Linked DNA regions of Homo sapiens: region 2 is linked to region 1. Evidence: fine-mapped expression QTL. Tissue or cell type: whole blood. Region 1 holds a variant in brackets; the other region holds the start of a gene. All regions are shown on one strand. Distances are between the middles of the regions.

Evidence for each region. PIP is the estimated chance that this variant, and not a neighbour inherited with it, causes the effect. A credible set is the group of variants that fine-mapping cannot tell apart.
Region 2: it holds the start of TFPI, and the variant in region 1 is the best candidate, but not a certain one, in a credible set for the expression of TFPI in whole blood (GTEx, PIP 0.55).

Annotation. Positions count from the first base shown.
Region 1 is chr2:187,819,586-187,827,775 of GRCh38, forward strand. It overlaps the pseudogene ST13P2. Among named protein-coding and RNA genes, the nearest start is that of TFPI, 270 kb to the left of the region's middle. The variant G/T (reference allele first, on the strand shown) is at 4,460.
Region 2 is chr2:187,550,233-187,558,422 of GRCh38, forward strand. It overlaps TFPI (tissue factor pathway inhibitor), which reads right to left and starts at 4,203. Exons shown (of 8, transcript NM_006287.6): 1 at 3,968-4,203. RefSeq lists enhancers at 7,245-7,829, 7,830-8,190.

The DNA.
Region 1 (8,190 bases):
AAAGTCAAATTATTTACTACATATACAGACAGAGATTCACAGAAGTCACTACAAGAAGTAAAATTTTAGAGTATGTCAGAGTCTATCTGAATCTCTTCTGCTGTTTCTGGTTAAACTCCTGTACCTTGTCTAGAGGCTTGAATTCTGGGATTGACCTAGGAAGAAGAGTGCTACAGAGGGACCGAGATGACTCAATGGAGCTTTACATAGTTACAGGGGGCTGGATGGGGAAAACAAACAAGTGAACAAATAAAACCTTCTGTGCTACCTACTACTGCCTAGAAGAGACATATGTTAAAGATGAGGTCACAAAAATGTTGAAAATGAGGGACTGCAAGATATACTGGTAAAATTGAGGCTAAGGCAATACATGTGTATGTAGCTTTACTAATATTGAAAAAAAGTGTGCTTCATGTAAAGAAGAGTTGCTGTAAATGAATTTTTTTTTTTTTTTTTTTAAGACAGAGTCTCACTCTGTCACCTAGGCTGGAGTCCAGTGACACGATCTCGGCTCACTGCAACCTCTGCCTCCTGGGTTCAAGCCATTCTCCCATCTCAGCTTCTGGAGTAGCTAGGATTACAGGCGCATGCCATTGCAGCAGGCTAATTTTTGTATTTTTAGTAGAGACGGGGTTTTGCCATGTTGGTCAGGCTGGTCTCTAACTCCTGACCTCAAGTGATCTGCCCGCCTTGGCCTCCCAAAGTGCTAGGATTACAGGCATGAGCCACCACGCCCGGCGAAAGAATTTTATATCATGATAAAGGAGTTAATAGAAAAAGACAATATGCCAATCTAAATCTGCTTGCATTAAATAAAGAAACTTCAAAATACTTAAAACAAAAATCATCAGAATTAGAAGGGATAGGCAATTAATAAAAGTAGAAGACATTAACAAACCTCTCTAAATACCTGTTACAATTAGTAGACAAGAACTAAATAATCTTCTATAGATTAGAAGATCTAACAAACATAATTAACAAATTCCCTATGTAAAATGCTGTCCCCAACAACCTCAGAACTTACCTTATTTTCAAATGCTAATGGATAATTTACCAAAAGTGGCCAGATGTTGAGACATGCAGAAACCCCAAAAAACTTTAAAACATTGAAGTTATGTAGATTATGTTCTCTTACCAGAGTGGAATTAAAAGTCAATAACAAAATAACAAAAATATATCCTATCTACCAGAAAGTTATGCAACATGCTTATTCATAGGCAAAAGAAAATATCACAATAAAAATTCAAAAAGAAAGTTGGTTAAAAATATACTTAGATAGAGGAAATAAGTTTTAATGTTGAGTAGCCCAGTAGGGCAACTACAGTTAACAAGAATTTATAGTACATTTTCAAATACCTATGAGGAAAGGTTTGGAATGTTCCCAACACAAAGAAATTATAAATGTTTGAGATGATATATAACCCAATTACCCTAATGTGATTTTTACACATTGTATGCATGTATCAAAATATAACATGTACCCCATAAATATATACAACTCTTATGTATCAATTAAAAAATCACTTTCATTTTAATGAAGACAAGATATATCAAACTTGTGTAATGCAGCTAACATATGGTTCAGAACAATTTGTAGCTTTAAATGTATAAATTAGAAAAAAATATATAATTTTCTAACTCAAGAAGCTAGAGAAAGAATAGCAAATTAAAATTTATAGGATGCAAAGGAAAAAAGCTAAGAATATAAATTATTTTAAAAATGCACAATGAAAGAAATGTAAAAGTCAGGCTTTGGCTCTTTAAAAGAATAATAAAACAGATTAAATTTCTAGAACTGCTAATCAAGATATAAACTGATGCCAAAATCTGACAAGGATGTAACAAGAAAGATTAAATTAGAGTAATCCTCATGAATATAGACACAAAAACCCTAAGCAAAAGAGTAGAAAATTGAATCCAGTGATATATGAAAACACAATTATTTAAGCACTAACCTCAAGGAGCTAGAGAAATAACAGAAAATAAAATTTAAAAGAGTTGTAGAAGAATAGAAATACCATTCAAGTGTAATTTTAATTCAGCAATGCAGGGAAGGATTTAATTTCTAAAATCAGTCAACATTATTCACAACATTAACAGAAAAAAAAACAAAAATTATTCAAATGTCCCAATATATGTAATAAAAAGTATCTGGCAAAATTCAACAAATATTTACTAAAGGGAAAAAAAAGAATGAAAACGAAACTAAACAAAAATCTCTCAGAAAATGAGATGAATCTGAACAATAATCTGACCAACAGTGTCTCCAAATTACCTCCAGCAATCATGTGTAATAGAAGAAAAATACATCACTAGTTATTGAGACCTATTATAATTCTATAGTAATTAAAACAGTGTGCTATTGATTCAACGATACAAAATAAGAGACTTGAGAGTCTAGAAGCTCACCCCCACAATATAGTCACATAATTTGTGACAAATTGCTACAATTCAGTGAGCAAATAATAGGATATATATATATGTAATTATAACCCACTATTTATATTTGTATACATATTTATTTATAAAATATACATATGTATGTATTAATATGTTTTAGAACAGTTATACGTTCATCACAAAATTGAGTGGAAAGTACAGAGAGTTCCCATATACTTCCTGCCCCTTACACATACACACCCTCTCTTACTGTCAACATCCCATGTCACAGTGGACACTTGTTACAACTGGTGAACCTTCATTGGCACATTGTTAAAGTTCACACTTGGTGTTGTACATTCTATGTGTTTAGACAAATTCATAATGATATTTATGTACCATTACAGCATCCCACGGGGTAATTTCACCACCCTAAAATCCTCTGTGCTTCACCTATTCATCCTCGCTCTCCCCAACCCCTTGCAACCACTGATCTTTTTACTCTTCAAAGTTTTGCCTTTACCTGAATGTCATATAGTTGGAGTCATGCATTATATATCCTGAGGAAGATGTGAAACAGCAGCAACTTTGCTGCTAAAAATAAAAAATGCTGCAGCAACTTTGGAAGACAGTTTGGCAGTTCTTACAGAACTAAACTTATTCTTACTGTATGATCCATCAGTTGTGCTCCTTGGTATTTATGGAAAATATTTGAAATCTTATTTCCACACAAAACCTTGCACGTGAATGTTTATAGCAGCTTCATTCATAATTGCCAAAACTTGGCAGCAACCAAGATGTCCTCCAGTAGGTGAATGAACAAATAAACTGTAGTACAACTAGACAATGAAATATTATTCAGCACTAATAGAAGGTGAGCTATCATGTCCTGAAAAGATATGGAGAAATCGTAAATGCATATTATTAAGTGAAAGAAACTAAATGGAAAAAATTGTCTTTTTAACAAATGGTGTTGAGTAGGCAAAGAGTTTGTAAACAAGACCAAAAAAGTGCTAAACATAAAAGAAAATATTGATAAATTGAACTCTATTAAAAATGTAAAACTTCTATTAATCAAATGACATTAAAAGTGTGAGAAGTCAATACATACAATGGGAGAGATATTGGCTACACATATAGCTTAAAAAGAAGAGAGAGATCCAAATATATACAGAACTCCAAATATATAAAAAACATCAAAATGAGAAGGACAAAAAATATAGAGAATAGGGAAAGGACAATGTAATACAAATATACACCCATCAGAATGGCTGAAATAAATATAAACCAATGACAATACCAGTCACCTCTTCCCTCAGTTGGGATAAGTCTGAGATATTCTACTCTATCTCTCCCAGAATTTCTCAACTGGATGGAAGAAACAGTAATTACTTGATAATGTGCCTGCTATGGTCTGGATGTTCGTATTCCCCCCAAAATTCACATGTTGAAACCTAATCCCCAGTACGATAATATTTGAAGGCAGAACTTTTGGGAGGTGATTAGAACATAGGGGCAAAGCCCTCATCAATCAGATTAGTGCCCTTTATAAAAGGCCCCAGAGAGCTTTCTCGCTCCTTCCAACATGTGAGAACACAGTGAGAGGGTGCCATCTGTGAACCAGGAAGAGAGTCTTCACCAGTCACTGAATCTGTTGGCACCTTGTTCTAAGACTTCCCAGCCTCCAGAGATATGAGAAATAAATTTCTGTTGTTTTTAAGCCACCCAGATTATGGTATTTTGTTGTTGTTGTTTGACCACAAAGATATTTATTAAAGTTTATTTTGAATTGGGAAAAGAAGGAAACATTCTAGATGTTTTAGACTTAATACTAAATAAAATTATGGTATATTCATTTTGCAGAACACCATGTAGCCACTGTGGAAAAGAGACTTAACTAAATGGGCATGATGGCTGTTATTAGGGTGATGAAAATCTTCCAAAGCTGACTTATGGTGATGGTTGTCGCACTCAGTAAAGTTACTGAAATAATTTAATTGTATGCACAAAATGGGTGAGTTTTATATTATATATATATTTTTACATTTGGAATTTTTTTAACTTTTATTTTAAGTTCAAG[G/T]GTACAAGTGCAGGTTTGTTACATAGGTAAGCTTTTGTCGTGGGGGTTTGTTGTACAGATTATTTCATCACCTAGGTATTCTACTACCCATTAGTTGTTTTTCCTGATCCTCTCCCTCCTCCCACCCTCTGCCTTCTGAAAGGCCCCAGTGTATATTGTTCCCATCTATGTGTTCATGTGTTCTCATCATTACCTTCCACTTATAAGTGAGAACATGCCATTTCTGGTTTTCTGTTTCTGTGTTAGTTTGCTAAGGATAATGGCCTCCAACTCCATACATGTCCCTGCAAAGGACTTGATGTCATTCTTTTTCATGGGTGCATAGTATTCTGTGGTGTCTATGTACCACATTTTCTTTATCCAGTCTATCTCTGATGGGCATTTGGTTGATTCCATGTCTTTGCTATTGTGGATAGTGCTACAATGAACATACGTGTGCATGTGTCTTTACAATAGAATGATTTATATTTCTTTGGGTATATACTCAGTAATAAGATTGTGGGGTTGAATGGTGTTTCTGTCTTTAGGTCTTTGGGGAATCACCACACTGTCTTCCACAATGGCTGAACTAATTTACACTCCCATACACCCTTCCAAGACTGAACCAGAAATAAACTGAATCCCTGAACAGACCAATAATGAGTTCTGAAATTGAGGCTGTAATAAATAGCCCACCAACCAAAACAAGTCCAGGGCCAGATGAATTTGCAGCTGAATTCTACCAGATGTACAAAGAAGAGCTGATACCACTCCTACTGAAACTATTCCAAAACATTGAAAAAGAGAGACTTCTCCCTAACTTATTCTATAAGGCCAGCATTATCCTTATAAGCAAAACCTGGCAGTTATATAACAAAAAAAGATAATTCAGGCCAATATCCTTAATGTAATGAACATCAATGCAAAAGTTCTCAGCAAAATACTGGCAAATTGAATCCAGCAGCCCAAGAAAAAGCTTATCCATCATGATCAAGTAGGCATCATCCCCAGGATGCAAGGTTGGTTCAACAAGGTTGGTATCACAATCAATAAATGTGATTCATCACATAAACAGAACTGAAGACAAAAAACATGATTATCTCAATAGATGCAGAGAAAGCTTTTGATAAAATTCAAAATCCTTGCTAAAATCCTTTAATAAACTGGGTATTGAAAGAACATACCTCAAAATAGTAAGATCCATCTGAGTCTGCTCTGACTTGCGGCAGCCGCCCCCTTCTGCACAGTCATGCCAAGTCAGCGCCTGGGCCTGGAACCCGGCCACAGCCCCTCAGCTTCGCCCACCGCCTCCTGACCATGGAACCCCACAAAGTGAACGAGCTTCGGGCCTTTGTGAAAATGTGTAAGCAGGATCCGAGCGTTCTGCACACCGAGGAAATGTGCTTCCTGAGGGTGTGGGTGGAGAGTATGGGGGGTAAATACCACCTGCTACTCAGAAAGCTAAATCAGACGAAAATACCAAGGAAGAAAAACCTGGTAGTAAGAAAGTGGAGGAAGACTTAAAGGCAGACAAACCATCAAGTGAGGAAAGTGATCTAGAAATTGATAATGAAGGTGTGATTGAACCAGACACTGATGCCCCTCAAGAAATGAGAGATGAAAATGCAGAGATAACAGAGGAGATGATGGATCAGGCAAATGATAAGAAAGTAGCTGCTATTGAAGCCCTAAATGATGGTGAACTGCAGAAAGCCATTGACGTTTTCACAGATGCCATTAAGCTGAATCCTCACTTGGCCATTTTGTATGCCAAGAGGGCCAGTGTCTTTGTCAAATTACAGAAGCCAAATGCTGCCATCCAACACTGTGACAGAGCCATTGAAATAAATCCTGATTTAGCTCAGCCTTACAAGTGGCGAGGGAAAGCACACAGGCTTCCAGGCCACTGGAAAGGAGCAGCCCATGATCTTGCCCTTGTCTGTAAATTGGAGTATGATAAAGATGCTAGTGCAACGCTGAAAGAAGTCCAATTTAGGGCTCAGAAAATTGCAGAACATCGGAGAAAGTATGAGCAAAAATGTGAAGGGTGAGAGATCAAAGAAAGAGTAGAAAGAGTTAAGAAGGCATGAGAAGAGCATGAGAGAGCCCAGAGGGAGGAAGCAGCCAGACAACAGTCAGGAGCTCAGTATGGCTCTTTTCCAGGTGGCTTTCCTGGGGTAATGCCTGGTAATTTTCTTGGAAGAATGCCTGGAATCGGAGGGGGCATACCAGGAGTGGCCAGAATGCCTGGGCTTAATGAAATTCTTAGTGATCCAGAGGTTCTTACAGCCATGCAGGATCCAGAAGTTATGGTGGCCTTCCAGGATGTGGCTCAGAACCCAGCAAATATATCAAAATACCAGAGCAACCCAAAGGTTATGAATCTTATCAGTAAATTGTGAGCCAAATTTGGAGGTCAAGCATAATGCCCTTCTGATAAATAAAGCCCTTGCTGAAGGAAAAGCAACCAAGATCACCTTACAGATGTCACAATAATACAAACCAGTGTACCTCTGACCTTCTCATCAAAAGATCTGGGGTGCTTTGAAGATAATTCCTACCCCTCTCCCTCAAATGCAGCTGAAACATTTTACAGTGGTTTGCCATTAGGGTATTCATTCAGATAATGTTTTCCTACTAGGAATTACAAACTTCAAACACCTTTTAAACCTTAAAAATATTTAAAACAAATTTAAAGCATCTGTTAATTATCATATTTTTATTTGCTAACCATTTTGGATTTTTTTCTTTGAATTATTGGGCAGGGAATATACATATGTATGGAAGATTATTGCTCTAGTTTGAGTGAAATAAAAGTATATTAGTGTGAGGGAAACATAACTCATTTGAGGATAAAGTTTGTGTTGGATATATGGTTCCTGAAGCATTTTGACTTGTCTTTTTAAATGCTTTATCTTTTTCTTTAAAGATTTATATCAATAAAACTAATTGGGACCACCACTATTTCAGTAGGACCTGGGTAGGGACTGGAAGTACTTGGCAGGGCAGCAGCAATCTTGCTGTCCTTTATATAACATGCATACTTTTGCAGATTGCCCTTAAACCTTACACTGTGGTGAAGGGATGATTTTTTTGTAATCCTGCAGTACAGTTGGAGTACTTAGTTCTGCTCTTGTCCAATATATCTAATAAATATTTCATATTATTTCCACATAGGGGAAATAAGGGATTACTTTTCTTTTTATATGTCTTTGTTTAAAATTATCTTTCCTAGTCAAAAAAATGCCCAACTCTGTGTCTGCTTTCTGCTTGTTAAATTTTTCTCCCTTACTTTTCTTGGGCTAAAGACAGGCTTTTTCCACCAGCATCATCACTGTTATCATCATTAACAGCATAATTTTAGAAGCATATTTAATGCTGAGTTTAATTTAATATGTAGTACATATGGTAATTGTATTGTAATACCCACAACAACTGTAGTTTCTTACTTGGCCATGAGAATGCTTTTTTAAGTGTTAGACTTCCACTCTGGCAAAATCTTGTCATATCAAAAGACGTCGGAAAGAGGGATTCCCTTTGGTGTTTGGTCTTCTACTTAGAAAACACCTAGTGCAGTTAGAGTTTATCTTGTAGTATTCCTCTCTGTATTCTGAAGATAATAAGGTTTGAATTAAATTGATCTACACAGAGGGGAACCAATTTTTTTGATCCAGTGTGAATTATAAATGAGATAATTCAGTTATTCATTGTGGAATTCTTGAGACTATGAAAGGCTCATTGTCTTTGTATTC
Region 2 (8,190 bases), 270 kb before region 1:
AAGACTGGGTGAAGCACCACCTAAAAGGGTTAGAGGGGCCCACACATGTAAAGCAGGGAATATTTTTTGTTCCCAAGTTGCAAAACTCTCAGTTCATGGAGCATTAAGTATAGTACTCAGGTGTTTGCAACAGTAGTAGGAAAAAATTAACCATAGAATAAACAATTCTCTGGTCTTGCCTAACAAAGTTTAATAGCAAGACAACAAAATAGGAAACAGTTTCCAAGTACTTTAACTACATCCCAGAAGAGAGCTCAAGGATATTTATAGAAATACAACATATACCAACACCCAATAAGGTAAAATTCATAATATTAGGCAACCACATCAAAATTACTAGGGATGCAAAGAACAGTAGAATATAACTCATAATGAGAAAAGTCTAAATGACAGAAATGACATCAAAAACAGAATTAGCAGACAAAAATATTAAAAATGTAAAGTATTTTCCATATGTCCAAAAAACTAGAGAAAAGTTGTATTACATTTTAATATAACCATTGTGATTCATTTTCTGAGATGAAAATTAATCTTTGAAGCTTCCTAAATGGACTTTAAAATATTACCAAAATATTCATAATAAACACCATTATTCTGGAGACTTACCCTGTTTCTGAGATTTACTCTGTTTTTAAGCCTTGGGAAATGAGGAATGAGGAATGAAGTGATGCTTACAGATGAATTATCATAGAATTCAAGGACTGGATAGAAATAGATAAGGGTCAAGAAGAGGAGAAGAGATAGACTAGGTTGGCAGCAGTGTGGTGGCAGCACTTGAGGGTGTGGTATATTTCGAGGGTGTCAAAGGCACATTGTGCTTGGTAATAAAAACTGTTTACATTTTATCAGTGTCCTACTGATGAATACTTTCACATTTCTGATGTTGAAATAGCTTTCTTATGCCCTAATAAGCAATATATAATATTTTTTACTCACATATTGACTGGGTAATTCCTTGCAATAATTCCAAGTCTACACAGAGACCTGTGGTCCATCACATGGAACAATTGGGATAGTTGTACTGCAGCATTGGAACTTCTATTATGGGCCATGATGTCCTTATATTCTTTTGTTTTTGAAGTAATTTTAACACCTGGTTGTTCCAACTAAGAGAGGACATAGCATCCCAAATAGAGGCTTAAAGAGAAAACAGTGGATTTGACATGGGCCCATACTTTCTGTTATTGTCGGTTTGAGGAAGAAGAAAAGTAGAGGTGAAGAAGTTGCCTTCAGCAACTGGTAGCTACTGGTAGTTGAATCTCAGGCTGTGGTTCTACTTGGCACCTGACACTTGGAGAAGTGAAGACAGGGAGAGAAAGGTAATGGGAAGACTGGGCCCCCGGAATTGATACATAACACCAAGAAAGCAGTCAGTGAGGATTTCAGAAAGCCAGGAAAGATGGTCTATTATGAAGAGAACTTGCTGGAAACACTTGAACACTTCCCTGTTTCTGGTGAGATTTGATATCCAGAAACACATGTCTATTGAATTCAAGTTTCTCCTAATGCACATTGTAGCAATCAGAAAGAATTATAGTACTGCTATATTTCTATAAAAGATAGCAGAATCTACCTTTGACACTAATGCATGAAAATATATTTGTGTTTTAAAAAGGCAGCCTGCCAAATTTAATTCCTAAAATGAGTTAATTGCTATAGATGGTAAACAAAAAAGGATGGCTGGTTGTAGAAGGCCTTTATTGAGAATAGATGAGTTGTATTGTAGTACAATTCTTAGATCATGTCCACATAGAAAAAAATAAATTGATGATATAATTAACCCATTTTAACCTATATTATAATTCAATTTAATTAATTTATACTGATAAGATTTTTTTGAAAATCCTAGTCTAAGTAATTTTCTTCACTTTTCATATTGTCTGTTCCTTTTTATTTTTTGTAAGGATGTTTACTTTGCATTTTTTTTCTTGTATTAGGTAGAGATATCAGTTGAAAGATACCTTAAAATTTTGTGACACTGAATTTAATCAGCCAACCATTCCTAAGGAATTGATAGCATATTTACTATTTGGTTAGATGGATAGGCACTCTGGCATTAAATTAAGTCTCTAAAGTTGGCATTTTTTCTCCATTAGTTTGCCATCCTGCCCACTTACCTCTTGAATTTGAAAGATGTAAACAAAAGATTTCTAAAGATTAGAAAATTAATTTTTAAGATAATTAAGCTGTTTTGAAAATTAGAGTTTATTACAAAATATGTTATCATTTTATGTATTATTAATTTAACAATAAGTTTTATGACAGAAGATTTAAGTCAAAATAGTTGTACAATCAACAAGCAAATGATAATCATTTCCTTAAATGATTATCTGACTGATAAATGGACAATCAGTCAGACCATCAAACACCAGTTGATAACATAATCCATTTGGACAGGAACCACATTTCCAAAGGAGTTTTGATTTAGTCATTGGTGGTAAAACAAAAGATATCAGACTGTACCTTAAAAACAAAGAAACAAAACAAAACAAAAACTTGTCCAATTCAGTATACCTAATAGAGATAGGAATCAAATAGTAGTATATGTCATTAAACTTTTCCAACAAGATTCTGTGGTCACTTGAAGTAGAAAAACTTGGTTTTCCAATATAACTACTCAAATCAGTAAAAATAAATATTTTAAAGTTTTACTCTTATTTTAAAATTACTTGATTAGTTATCTGTATTTACATTAATATTTTTCAATCTTTGTTGATCCCTAATTATATTTCATATAATTTTATTAAGCTGTAGGCCACAAATTAACATTTCAAACTCAGCCAAATTTCAGGGACTATCCCTCTTTAGTTTAAGGATTAGATGAGATATGGACACTGTATATTGAAATAATCATGCACTAGAATGATAGATTTAAAATAATCTTTAAAATGTGTTAGGGAGATTTTGCCTCCCTAACACATTTTATTCAAAAGTTTTGCAGTATCTCTCAAAATTGTCACAACTTTCCCCCTTTCATGTAAATATTATGCTTTTACACATGAAATATGACTCTCTGGGCAGTATGTTTCCTGCTTGAGTTTTGCCCTTTGTGTTTATATTATCTCATGTTATACAAAGTCATTTTGTGACTAATTTCCAGAGCACTGAGTCACAGTGTGGCTGTTGCTTATCTTTTCTTTTTTCCCACATGGTAGTACTCTTGGCCCTTATTTTTGGTAATTATTTTATACTAATGAGTGCTTTTTCATAATTAAATAATTGTTTCTCTCATTATATTTCTGTGGTTGTTTACTGCTGTATTATATGCTTTCATTTTTCACTAGAAGCAAACATTTTATAACAGGAACATAACAGTACATCATGTAGGCATGTTATCTATTGTTTTAATTTACAAAATTGCACAACATAGACTTGATCGTAAGTATTCTCGTTTAAGTATCTCAGAATATGACCTTTGGTCTTTGGAGAATTGTAAAATATTTCCTTAGAGAGATTAGTTAATGCTGGCATAAAATATTCCATTTAGATTACGATTATTTTAATGGTTATACCTCATTTTAAATATCATCAACTAATAGTATTGAAAGATTATTTGAATAGAAGAATAACAGTCTCTATTTTATATGTTATGAAATAAAATGGAAAGGTAAACCGAACTTTCAAGAACTTCCAATTAACCAAGCACAATTAGTAAAGAATTCTACTACAATCTTCAAATTATAAAAAAGCTACATACACCAATTAGTTACAAAAATGTTTATGGTTTAAAATCATAAAAATTGCACATAAATTTGCTTAAGAACTAAATGCAAAATGCTGAGAACTCAAGTTTGGATTGCAGTTTGAGTTTACTCTGTTTACAGGGAAGGGCTGATTTTCATTTTACGCAAATAAACAGTGATCCTCCCCTATCAGTTCTTTGCCTCTCAGCACCCTGCTTTTCCCCCGAGAAAAAGAAATTAAAGTTATTTCTTATGGGCTAGACAGTATATTGCCAGGTACTCACAAGTAAAATCTCTGATGAAAGTTCTTGGAATGTTTTTTTCAAAACGGAGTTGAGGTTATTTTGTTTTTCCTTCCAGGTATTGAAGACAGGATTTATCTTCTCTACTTCTTCTTTTAGAAGCAGATCAAGAAACTGGCGATTGAAGAGTAACTGAAAGAAACGCAATCTGATCTTACTAGCAGTGAAAGAGCGAGGTAAGAATTTGACTATTATCCAGCCTAAAGTCGCTGCTGTCTGTTAGAGCAAAGAGGGAGCCTCAGAGTCGGCTTCAGAGATCACTGGCAGTTGGGAATAGCCCAACTTCCTGTTTAGGTCACTGCAACTCTGACTCTATTTAGTCTAAACCTCTTTTTTCTTTCTTTCTTTCTTTTTTTTAGTGGAGGAAACAGATGAAGGAAACAGCTTACACCAAGATTTCAGATACGATCATTTTGAATAGCTATTTCCTTTACTTTCCAGGATTGTTTTTGTAATCAGTTGAAAAAGAATGCTTTTTTCCCCCTAGAGTTAGGGTTTAAAAAATTACATATTTATTATTACACTGTTAATAAGCTTTTTTGCAGTTTGTTTCTTCTTCAAGTTATTTCATTTGTTTCACCCACTGTCAATGTATTTATTTTTTTTAAAAGTCTGAGGGCTACCGTTGGAGGTCTCTCTTAGTGAGACAATGTAATGCATTATCTATTGCAGGTGTCAGGCTTTGAGCCCTACCTTAGCTACTTGCTAACTTGGCTACTCAGCCCAGTTATTTGAATTCACTATGCCTCAGTTCCTTTGTTCCTAAAATGTCGATAATAAAAGTTTCTGGGCTTGATGTAAGTACTAAATGGCTTAATACATAAAAAGTACTTAAGGCAGGACCCAGCATGTAGCAAACCTCCAATAATTGTTGGCTATCATTATCGCTGTTTTCTGTATTTCTATTATTATTATTCTACAAAATATGTAAATATTTACAGATGTCAACCAGAGTCTCTGCTGTATGTCCCTATCATTGAGGTTCATCCGTACTGTCTCTGTATTGGAATTATGGTCATATCAGACTAAGATCACTAGAGATCTAATAAATGGGCAGAATCTACTTTGCCAGGAAGGCTGAAGACATTTGGTCAGAAAATGTAGGAGTTTCTTGCTTCTGCATCTCAGATTCTTTGTGCCTTCAATTTTTCTTGCTTTCCTTAGACCTCTCTGTAAAAGGTAACCTTTCATCTTGAGTGTTTTTAATACATATTGAATAATTATTTGGTGGTGACTGGAACATAAATTATCGATTTAATTCTCACAACTAGCTTATAAAGAAGGTCCTCTTTGTATGCCCATTTCACATGTCTAGGAAGATCGAGTTCAGTATGTGGAGCTGTGATTCTAATGTCATGCAGTCTGCCTTTAGAGCAAAAATGCATAAATCCTCCTCCATGCTGCCTTCTCACTCATGTTCTGGATTTCATATCATGTTAATAACTTATCTCCTATTACCTCATGCCCTGCCCCTCAACCACAATCAAAGCTATCATCTCACTCAGATTGTAGAGGAAAGTCCTTTTTTCTTGGTACCACCATGGACCTTGATTAAACTTTTGAGGAATCTGTAGCTCAGGTAGAGGCAAGCTCAGCCAATCAGATTTTCTTTCTTGAAAGTTTCGCCTCTCCTCCCTCTCCCTCTCCCTCTCCCTCTCCCTCTCCGTCTCCCTCTCCCTCTCCCTCTCACGGTCTCCCTCTCCCTCTCTTTCCACAGTCTCCCTCTGATGCCGAGCAGAAGCTAGACTGTACTGCTGCCATCTCAGCTCACTGCAACCTCCCTGCCTGATTCTCCTGCCTCAGCCTGCTGAGTGCCTGCAATTGCAGGCGCGCCGCCACGCCTGACTGGTTTTCGTATTTTTTTGGTGGAGACGGGGATTCGCTGTGTTGGCCGGGCTGGTCTCCAGCTCCTAACCGCGAGTGATCCACCAGCCTCGGCCTCCTGAGGTGCCGGGATTGCAGACGGAGTCTGGTTCACTCAGTGCTCAATGGCGCCCAGACTGGAGTGCAGTGGCGTGATCTCAGCTCGCTACAACCTCCACCTCCCAGCCGCCTCCCTTGGCCTCCCAAAGTGCAGAGATTGCAGCCTCTGCCCGGCCGCCACCCCGCCTGGGAAGTGAGGAGCGTCTCTGCCTGGCCGCCCATTGTCTGGGATGTGAGGAGCCCCTCTGCCTGGCTGCCCAGTCTGGAAAGTGAGGAGTGTCTCTGCCTGGCCGCCATCCCATCTAGGAAGTGAGGAGCGCCTCTTCCCGGCCGCCATCCCATCTAGGAAGTGAGGAGCCTCTCTGCCCAGCCGCCCATCGTCTGAGATGTGGGGAGCGCCTCTGCCCCGCCGCCCCGTCTGGGATGTGAGGAGCGCCTCTACCCCGCCGCGACCCCGTCTGGGAGGTGAGGAGCGTCTCTGCCCGGCGGCCCCGTCTGGGAAGTGAGGAGACCCTCCGCCCGGCAGCCGCCCCATCTGAGAAGTGAGGAGCCCCTCTGCCCAGCAGCCACCCTGTCTGGGAAGTGAGGAGCGTCTCTGCCCAGCAGCCACCCCGTCTGGGAGGGAGGTGGGGGGTCAGCCCCCCGCCCGGCCAGCCGCCCCGTCCGGGAGGTGAGGGGCGCCTCTGCCCGGCGGCCCCTACTGGGAAGTGAGGAGCCCCTCTGCCCGGCCAGCCGCCCCGTCTGGGAAGTGAGGAGCGTCTCCGCCCAGCAGCCACCCCGTCCGGGAGGGAGGTGGGGGGATCAGCCCCCCGCCCGGCCAGCCGCCCAGTCCGGGAGGGAGGTGGGGGGGTCAGCCCCCCGCCCGGCCAGCCGCCCCGTCCGGGAGGTGAGGGGTGCCTCTGCCCGGCCGCCCCTACTGGGAAGTGAGGAGCCCCTCTGCCCGGCCAGCCGCCCGGTCCGGGAGGGAGGTGGGGGGGTCAGCCCCCTGCCTGGCAAGCCGCCCCGTCTGGGAGGGAGGTGGGGGGATCAGCCCCCCGCCGGGCCAGCCACCCCGTCCGGGAGGTGAGGGGTGCCTCTGCCCGGCCGCCCCTACTGGGAAGTGAGGAGCCCCTCTGCCCGGCCAGCCGCCCCATCCGGGAGTGAGGTGGGGGGGTCAGCCCCCTGCCCGGCCAGCCGCCCCGTCCGGGAGGTGAGGGGCGCCTCTGCCCGGCCGCCCCTACTGGGAAGTGAGGAGCCCCTCTGCCCGGCCACCACCCCGTCTGGGAGGTGTACCCAACAGCTCATTGAGAACGGGCCATGATGACAATGGCGGTTTTGTGGAATAGAAAGCGGGGAAAGGTGGGGAAAAGATTGAGAAATCGGATGGTTGCCGTGTCTGTGTAGAAAGAGGTAGACATGGGAGACTTTTCATTTTGTTCTGTACTAAGAAAAATTCTTATCCTGTTGATCTGTGACCTTACCCCCAACCCCGTGCTCTCTGAAACATGTGCTGTGTCCACTCAGGGCTAAATGGATTAAGGGCGGTGCAAGATGTGCTTTGTTAAACAGATGCTTGAAGGCAGCATGCTCGTTGAGAGTCATCACCACTCCCTAATCTCAAGTAACCAGGGACACAAACACTGTGGAAGGCCGCAGGGTCCTCTGCCTAGGAAAACCAGAGACCTTTGTTCACTTGTTTATCTGCTGACCTTCCCTCCACTATTGTCCTATGACCCTGCCAAATCCCCCTCTGCGAGAAACACCCAAGAATGATCAATAAAAAAATAAAATAAAATAAAATAAAATAAAATAAATAAAGTTTCATGCGCATCCGTGTGAAGAGACCACCAAACAGGCTTTGTGTGAGCAGCATGGCTGTTTATTTCACCTGGGTGCAGGCGGGCTGAGTCCGAAAAGAGAGTCAGCCAAGGGAGATAAGGGTGGGGCTGTTTTATAGGATTTGGGTAGGTAAAGGAAAATTACAGTCAAAGGGGGTTTGTTCTCTGGCGGGCAGGAGTGGGGGCCGCAAGGTGCTCAGTGGGGGTGCTTTGAGCCAGGATGAGCCAGGAAAAGGAGTTTCACAAGGTAATGTCATCAGTTAAGGCAAGGACCGGCCATTTACACTTCTTTTGTGGTGGAATGTCATCATTAAGGTGGTGCAGGGCATATTCACTTCTTTTGTGATTCTTCAGTTACTTCAGGCCATCTGGGCATATACGTGCAGGTCACAGGGGATGCATGGCTTGGCTTGGGCTCAGAGGCCTGACACTCCTGCCTTCTTATATTAATAAGAAAAATAAAAC